Linked DNA regions of Homo sapiens: region 1 is linked to region 2. The links come from fine-mapping of genetic effects on gene expression. A gene starts in region 2. The other region holds a variant in brackets. All regions are shown on one strand. Distances are from middle to middle.

The links. PIP is the estimated chance that this variant, and not a neighbour inherited with it, causes the effect. A credible set is the group of variants that fine-mapping cannot tell apart.
Region 1: its variant is the best candidate, but not a certain one, in a credible set for the expression of WEE1 in lymphoblastoid cells (GEUVADIS, PIP 0.56).

Annotation. Positions count from the first base shown.
Region 1 is chr11:9,619,712-9,624,096 of GRCh38, forward strand. No RefSeq gene overlaps it. Among named protein-coding and RNA genes, the nearest start is that of SWAP70, 42 kb to the right of the region's middle. The variant TTTTGCCCTCA/T (reference allele first, on the strand shown) is at 2,007.
Region 2 is chr11:9,571,462-9,575,846 of GRCh38, forward strand. It overlaps WEE1 (WEE1 G2 checkpoint kinase), which reads left to right and starts at 2,209. Exons shown (of 11, transcript NM_003390.4): 1 at 2,209-3,048. The coding sequence starts at 2,473. RefSeq lists an enhancer at 1,435-2,287 and silencers at 1,862-2,211, 2,232-2,441, 2,732-2,831.

The DNA of each region.
Region 1 (4,385 bases), 48 kb after region 2:
GTTGCAGGAGCAGCCAAATATCTCAAGGTGGGATGAATGAAGTGAACTGGCTGGTGCTCCTCCAGTAAATACTGTCCTTTTATTGCCCAGGGGCTCTGGACCTGCCTCGGGTCAAGAAGGGCACAAAAGCGGGATCAGAAGACCAAAGCTTTCCAAGCAGCTGTGTGGGGCAGCTGTGCAACTGAGACCATGCTCAACCTTCCCTTCCTCATCCCCTGTGAACTCTCTGAGGCCAGTCAATTCCTGGGGTGGGACATGCTGGTGGGTGGAAGGAATGTGGGGAAGAGCTACCAGTTACACCAAATAGAGATTCATCCAGGTTAACCAGCAGGTTTTTCAAACATGCAAGTCCCTGAAAGGACTGAAATATATGGGTACCAGAGTTAGTAGAGCCCCAGAAGGGGAATCTGCCTGCAGGGTCTATGCACAGAAGTTCTCTGGGCCCTGGGTCTCAGAGGCATCTGGAAACACAAAGAGTGGGGCAGTGTTATTCCTTACTACCCTCAGGGTGTGAGTGTACCTGCAGCTGAGCACATTGAGTTAGGCCTTCAGGGCAGGCACAGATCCAGATTTAGACCCAGGGTGACCCAGGAGTTAGGCTTCCTCACCTTTTGACTCCTCTCCTCTCTAGCTAGTCTATGTTTTTTCCCACCTGAGGTGTGGTATTATAGAAATCATTCCATTTTGTAACTGCAATAGCTTTAAGAAAATGAAATGGGTGGGACAAAGGGGTTAATTTTTCACTTTTTACATTTTGGTGTTATATGAGTTCTTAAAACGAGCCAGGGTTATTTTTGTTATTTTATTTTATTATTTGAGATGGGGTCTCACCCTGTCGCCCAGGCTAGAGTGCAGTGGTGCAATCATGGCTCGATGCAACCTCAACTTCCCCTGGCTCAGGTGATTCTCCCACCTCAGCCTCCCAATAAGCTGGGACTATAGTTGCATGCCACCATGCCTGGCTAATTTTTGCATTTTTTGTAAAGATGGGGTTTTGCCATGTTGCCCCTCAAATTCCTCAGCACAAGCAATCCTCATGCTTTGGCCTCCCAAAGTGCTGGGATTACAGGCATGAGCCACCACCGCGCCCGGCTCCAAGAAAATTCTTACCAAAACGTAACAAATTAATATTACTTGGCCGGGCGCGGTGGCTCACACCTGTAATCCCAGCACTTTGGGAGGCTGAGGCGGGTGGATCACGAGGTCAGGAGATCGAGACCATCCTGGCTAACACGGTGAAACTCCGTCTCTACTAAAAATACAAAAAATTAGCTGGGCGTAGTGGGGGGCTCCTGTAGTCCCAGCTACTTGGGAGGCTGAGGCAGGAGAATCACTTGAACCCTGGAGGCGGAGCTTGCAGTGAGCCGAGATCACGCCATTGCACTCCAGCCTGGGTGACAGAGTGAGACTCCATCTCAAAAAAAAAAAAAAAATTACTTATATGTTTCATTATTTCATATAGAGGAAACTTATGTAGCCCAATATACTGAGAAAGAATTGGAGACATAAAAATATTAACTTTAGTATGCCTTGCCAATATAATTTTTTGTTTGTTTGTTTGTTTTAGAGACCAGGTTTCGCCATGTTGTCCAGGCTGATCTTGAACTCCTGGACTTAAGCAATCCATTCGTCTAGGCCTCCCAAAGTGCTAGGATTACAGGTGTGAGCCACCATGCCTGGACCAAATATAATTATTTAAAAATAAAATGTTTTATCTTACTATGGGCTTTATAGTTTGTCGGAACCTTAGAGCTACAGAAGCAACTCATTCAACTTAGGAAAATATGTGTCATATAACCAAATTGACAAAACCAGTCTTATTATCAAATTAATAGCCAATTAGGCTTCAGTTTTCAATTTCAATAAAATGTGTGTTTCCTTATCTCTTGTCTGAATTCTAGTTCTAAATTGAATAACTATCCAAGGCAGAGAGCAAGGCCCTGAGTTTGTGCTGGGATGACAGAAGGTGCTGCCGTGTTTGGTATTTCCTACTGAACTTCTATTTC[TTTTGCCCTCA/T]TTTGCCCTCATAGGATTCTGTTTTGGAAGCAAAGCATTCTTTCACAGCAGTCTAGAGATGGGAGAAGGAATAAAGCTTGTTATTCCTTGGTCAATATCTCTAACATCTCAACATGTGCTAAGTTACACTGTTTCCACTGTGGTGCTTCAAACTTAACAGAAATATGTATAAGACAGGGAAAGACTTGAAGCCTCCTATAGGTGTCCTGTTTAAAGAGATGAATTTTTAATATCCTGGACCAATTTGCAATATAAGATTCAGGATGGGTAAGAGATGTACCTTTCTTTTGCAAAGAGAAAGGGAGATTGTGAAAGGGGAGATGGTGGGTCCGGAATTGGTGGGTTCTTGGTCTCACTGACTTCAAGAATGAAGCCGTGGACCCTCGCGGTGAGTGTTACAGCTCTTAAGGTGGCGTGTCTGGAGTCTGTCCCTTCTGATGTTCAGATGTGTTCGGAGTTTCTTCCTTCTGGTGGGTTCGTGGTCTCGCTGGCTCAGGAGTGAAGCTGCAGACCTTCGCCGTGAGTGTTACAGCTCTTAAGGCAGCGCGTCTGGAGTTGTTCGTTCATCCCGGTGGGCTCCTGGTCTCCCTGGGCTCAGGAGTGAAGCTGCAGATCTTCACGGTGAGTGTTACAGCTCATAAAAGCAGTGTGGACCCAAAGAGTGAGCAGTAGCAAGATTTATTGCAAAGAGCGAAAGAACAAAGCTTCCACAGCGTGGAAGCAGACCCCAGCAGGTTGCCAATGCTGGCTCGGGCAGCCTGTTTTTATTCTCTTATCTGGCCCCACCCACATCCTGCTGATTGGTAGAGCCAAGTGGCCTGTTTTGTCAGGGTGCTGATTGGTGCGTTTAAAATCCCGGAGCTAGATACAAAGGTTCTCCACGTCCCCATCAGATTAGTTAGATACAGAGTTTCCACACGCAGGTTCTCCAAGGCCCCACCAGAGCAGCTAGATACAGAGTGTCAATTGGTGCATTCACAAACCTTGAGCTAAACACAGGGTGCTGATTGGTGTGTTTACAAACCTTGAGCTAGATACAGAGTACCGATTGGTGTATTTACAATCCTTGAGCTAGACATAAAGGTTCTCCACGTCCTCACCAGAGTGGCTAGATACAGACTGTCGATTGGTGCACTCACAAACCTTGAGCTAAACACAGGGTGCTGATTGGTGTATTTACAATTCCTGAGCTAGATATAAAGACTCTCCACGTCCCCACCAGACTCAGGAGCCCAGCTGGCTTCACCTAGTGGATCCCGCACCGGGGCTGCAGGTGGAGCTGCCTGCCAGTCCTGCGCCGTGTGCTCGCATTCCTCAGCCCTTGGGTGGTCGATGGGACTGGGCGCCGTGGAGCAGAGGGTGGCGCTCGTCGGGGAGGCTCCGGCCACACAGGAGCCCATGGAGTGGGTGGGAGGCTTAGGCATGGTGGGCTGCAGGTCCCGAGCCCTGCCCCGTGGGAAGGCAGCCAAGGCCCGGCGAGAAATCGAGTGCAGCGCCGGTGGGCCAGCACTGCTGGGGGACTCAGTACACCCTCTGCAGCCATTGGCCCGGGTGCTAAGTCTCCCATTTTGCCCAGAGCCAGCAGGGCTGCCTGGCTGCTCCGAGTGCGGGGCCCACCAAGCCCACGCACACCCGGAACTCCAGCTGGCCCGCAAGTGCCGCACACAGCCCCGGTTCCCGCTCATGCCTCTCCCTCCACACCTCCCTGCAAGCTGAGGGAGTGGGCTCCGGCCTTGGCCAGGCCAGAAAGGGGCTCCCACAGTGCAGTGGGGGACTGAAGGGCTCCTCAAATGCCACCAAAGTGGGAGCCCAGGCAGGGGAGGTGCCGAGAGCAAGCGAGGGCTCTGAGGACTGCCAGCACGCTGTCACCTCTCAATGGGAAAGGACAACAGGCATGATGGTAGACACTGAAGGTGCATCCTTAGGTCAATTTTATGCAAAAGTACCTATGGGCTGGCATGGTGGCTCATGCCTGTAATCCTAACACTTTGGGAGGCTGAGGCAGGAGGATTTCTTGAGCCCAGGAGTTCAAGACCAGCCTGGGTAATACAGCAAGACCTGGTTTCTACTAAATATAATTTTTATTAAAAATTGAAAACAATTTTTTAAAATTAAGAAAAATGTCTATGGAAGTCAAAGTTCCCCTCAAACTGTTCATTCTTGCATAAACCTTGATATCCCAGAGACCAATATCTCAAAGCATAGTTATAATCACTGACTTCCCAACCAAAGGCTTCTGCAGCTTCTGCTTGCCTGCAGTTGTAGCTCCTAATCTCATTATCATCAGAAGCGTGATGCTTCAGACTAATCATAATCATGATTATGATTCAGGATTGCAGGAGTGGGGCTCCAACACATGCATGTTTATG
Region 2 (4,385 bases):
GGCTTTGGCCACTGTGGATCATTGACTAACTCTCCTTATACAAGTCTAGAATTCTTGTCCTCCAAGAGCTTAAAATTAAGTTTGCATGACCATATAAAAAACACATTTATACACCAGTTAGCAAATGTTAGGAGAAAAGACAGCTGTTGATCCTTCACTGTGTCTTCAGTTGTGTGATCTCAGGAAATTCCCGATTTGATGTGTTAAGTACTACCGTGTGTTTCAAGAAAAATTCAGCTTGAGTTTATTTAGCCTTTGAAAAGCATTAGAACAACATATATGACAAAGTGTTAATATGCATAAAGTGCTAACAATAAGAAAAATAGGCAATAGAGATAAATGTAAATTATCATTAAACCCATGACAACTGTTCAACAATATGAATCAAAACAACAAAACCACATCAACGAACATCCACTGATGTCCTGAATTCACAGAGTGTGCTCTAATCCACTGCTAGTGAGAATGTATTGTGTTTCTGGAGGGGGAGTTTGCCAGTTTATATCCTTTGACTGAGGAATTCTAACTCCAGGGAGGTATCCAAAAGAGTATTTTAAAAAGGCCAGGCGCGGTGGCTCACGCCTGTAATCCTAGCACTTTGGGAGGCCGAGGCGGGCAGATCACCTGAGGTCAGGAGTTTGAGACCAGCCTGCCAACATGGTGAAACTCCGTATTTTGCATTTTGTAAAAATACAAAAATTGGCCAGGCCTGGTATGTGCTTGTAATACCAGCTACCCGGGAGACAGGAGAATCGCTGGAACCCGAGAACCCGGGAGGTGGGGGCTGCAGTGAGCCGAGATCGCGCCACTGCACTCCAGCCTGGGGCGACAGAGCGAGACTCCGTGTCGAAAAAAACCAAACCAAACAAAAAACATGGAGAAGGAAGCATATACACCACGGGGTTGTTTACAACAGAAAACTGGAAGAGGCCGGGAGCGGTGGTTCACGTCTGTAATTCCAGCACTTTGAGAGGCCGAGGCGGGCGGATCACTTGAGATCAGGAGTTGGAGACCAGCCTGGCCAACATTGGGAAGTTCGTCTCTACTAAAAATACAAAAATTAGCCAGGTGTGGTGGCAGCCGCCTGTAATCCCAGCTACTCGGGTGGCTGAGGCATGAGAATCGCTTGAACTCTAAAGGCGGAGGTTGCAGGTTGTAGTGAGCCGAGATCGTGCCACTGCACTCCAGCCTGGGTGACAGAGCAAGACCCCGTCTCAGAAAAAAAAAAAAAAATAAATAAACAAAGAAAGAAAAAAGAAAACTGGAAGAAACGTGTAAGTGCATTAAGGGACAGATTAAATCAGTTTAACGAAGCACTAGGGAAATTTTTTAAAATTGCGTTTGAGTTTGCCGCGAGCCGGGCCAATCGGTTTTGCCAACGCATGCCCACGTGCTGGCGAACAAATGTAAACACGGAGATCGTGTGCCGGGCACTTGGTTTCGTGGTGGGCAACTGTGCTGCTGTTTCTTTTGGCCGCGGACAAGGTCGGCAGAGGTGGACCCCTGCTTGGGAGAGCTCTTCTCGCTGTGCTGACACCCGCCCCTAACAGTCACCCACCCCGGGGAAATAATGGGGCTCGGAGGCCTCCTCCCAGCCAGTGTCCAGCCTAAGCACATCGGCTCCCGCAGTTCAGAAAGGTCCCGAGGCCCGAGTCACCATTTCCGGCTCAGACCTCGACCCTGAACGTGGCTGCCCACTGCCACGCCCACTACGCCCCAGTGGCTCGCCCCAGGGGACGAGGGGCAAGAAGCGGCCTCCGAGGGCAGCGGCCGAAGGCCATTCGGTCCCTGGCTCTTCCCAGCTCGCAGAGACCCGGAGGCGCTGCCCGGCCGCCTGCCCCTCTTCAGATCCCCCAGCACCGGAGGAGCAGCGAGGGGGGTGCGTCCAGGCCGGCTTTCGGGTCGGCTTAGGCGAATCCAGCTCTCTTTTGCCCCTCCCAGAAGGCCCAGCCCCGTCCGGGCGGTGTTCGGGCGGCGCCGGGCCGGGCCCCCCGCCGCCCCAGGCTCGCTCATAGGCCCGGAACACCACAGCCCGCCCAGACTTGGCTGGCGCCGAGCCGGGGGTGGAGCCAGCGGGTTCCCGCCAAAATCGCGTAGCTGGTCCTTCCCCCGCGGGCTACGTCGCGCCCTCCTTTTTTTTTCAAACCCGGAGCTGCACTGGGATTGGTGGACTGGGCACTCACGTGGTTAACGGTCGCGGGAAGCCGCGGAGCCCGAACCTGAGACTGGACCTGAGGAGACCTCAGCCTCGGTGCTCGGGCCGCCCCGCCTCTGCCGGAAAGTCCGCGCCGCCGCTGCCGCCACCGTCCGCAGCCCGAGCGCCCCGGAGCCGCAGGCCGCCGCCGCGCAGAGACGCCGCGGCTGCGACTAGGCGCGCCCAGCCGCACGTGGCGGACCCGCCCCCAGGCCCGCAGTGTCCTGGACCCCGCAGGCCTCCGCTCTCCTGTCCTCGGCCCCGTCCCCAGGGCCGCGATGAGCTTCCTGAGCCGACAGCAGCCGCCGCCACCCCGCCGCGCCGGGGCGGCCTGCACCTTGCGGCAGAAGCTGATCTTCTCGCCCTGCAGCGACTGTGAGGAGGAGGAAGAAGAGGAGGAGGAGGAGGGCAGCGGCCACAGCACCGGGGAGGACTCGGCCTTTCAAGAGCCCGACTCGCCGCTGCCGCCCGCGCGGAGCCCCACGGAGCCCGGGCCCGAGCGCCGCCGCTCGCCCGGGCCGGCCCCCGGCAGCCCCGGCGAGCTGGAGGAGGACCTGTTGCTGCCCGGCGCCTGCCCGGGCGCGGACGAGGCGGGCGGTGGGGCGGAGGGCGACTCGTGGGAGGAGGAGGGCTTCGGCTCCTCGTCGCCGGTCAAGTCGCCGGCGGCCCCCTACTTCCTGGGTAGCTCTTTCTCGCCGGTGCGCTGCGGCGGCCCAGGAGATGCGTCGCCGCGGGGTTGCGGGGCGCGCCGGGCGGGCGAAGGCCGCCGCTCGCCGCGGCCGGACCACCCGGGCACCCCGCCACACAAGACCTTCCGCAAGCTGCGACTCTTCGACACCCCGCACACGCCCAAGGTGAGAGCGGCGGGCGCGGGCACCCGGCGGCCGGGGCCGCGGCGCCGGAGGGGCCAGCGCCGCTGCCTGGGTTCGGTTACAGAAGCGGCCGGCCGCTCCCCCCTCGCTTTCCTGCGCCGCCCCCCAAAGTTGGCAGCCCTTGTGTTTGGCCCTGCCCCGAGGTTGTCCGTTGAGATTATGTAACTGAACAATGGGCCTCGTCTGGAACTTCATCTTACAAAGGGGCCGATCGGCCCGTCCGGGTGGCCAAGGATTTGCCGCCCGTTGAGTCCGGGCCGCCCCGAGCGTGTCAGCCCCGAGTGCGGCACCGATAACGCGGTTCGCGAGGATGCTGGAGGGTGCCGGCCCGGCCACCTGACACTCCCGAGCCATAGGATGCCTTTTAAACGCGGCGATCGGGCCTGTAATTTGGGCGGCGCGGGCAGAAGGAGTTTAAAGAAAAATAATTGTCCCGCCCTGATCGTGTCGTGTCGTGTGGCGTGGATGGGGGAAAGGTCTGGGGCATGCAGGGAGACTACGCTTGGACTTGGGAGTAAAGGCTGGCCTTCCAAGCATTTACAGTCCTACAGACTCATCCTAAGTCCAGGCAGTACTGAGGCCTGTTTCTGGACAAGGTCTTGGCCCAGCATTTGTTTTTATCGTGGGTTTGCGGTGCCCAGAGTTTGGCCGGCCTCCGTGTGATTAGGAACATCCTACCGTAGATAAGGTATCTTAAAGAAGGAGGTGTTCAGCACCTGTGTTTTGAAAGGCCTTCGAGTACTGCGCAGATGACCACTTTTAAAACTGCAGATTTTAAAGCTGATACTTCCAGAGATTAAGACAAGCCTCGCATTTGTAAGGTTAACAGGGAAGATGCACCTTTTAAAGTGAGTTTGTTTTGTTTTCAATGTACTGTTTGTCATCAGCCTAGGCAATCTGTGTGCTTTCGAGCTGTACTGTTTATTGGCCGACTTGCTCAAGGCAAAATCCCTCTGGAAGTGAGGGGAGGAGTCCAGCGGAGGTGGCTATGGAAGCCCTATCTAGATGGGGGAGGGGAGATTTTATGGGGCTCTCGGACTGCTTTCTATTTTTGGATGGGTTGAAAGAATTTGTTAACTTTTAGCCACTAGAATGAACTTAGTTTTAGGCAGCATTTATATTCTTTTTAGGGTTAGAGGCAGATTTTACTTGGCTATTTTTTTCAAGAAAAGATAGTTAATATCCAGCTTCAGTCTTCCTAAATTAGCCACAATTTATTTTGCTTGAACTCTAACAAAGGCTTGTGTGTTGCTTTCACCTACGCATTCAGCCCTATGAAAGGCTCGTTGAAGGTTAGGTTGAGAAGGCTGACTATAGGA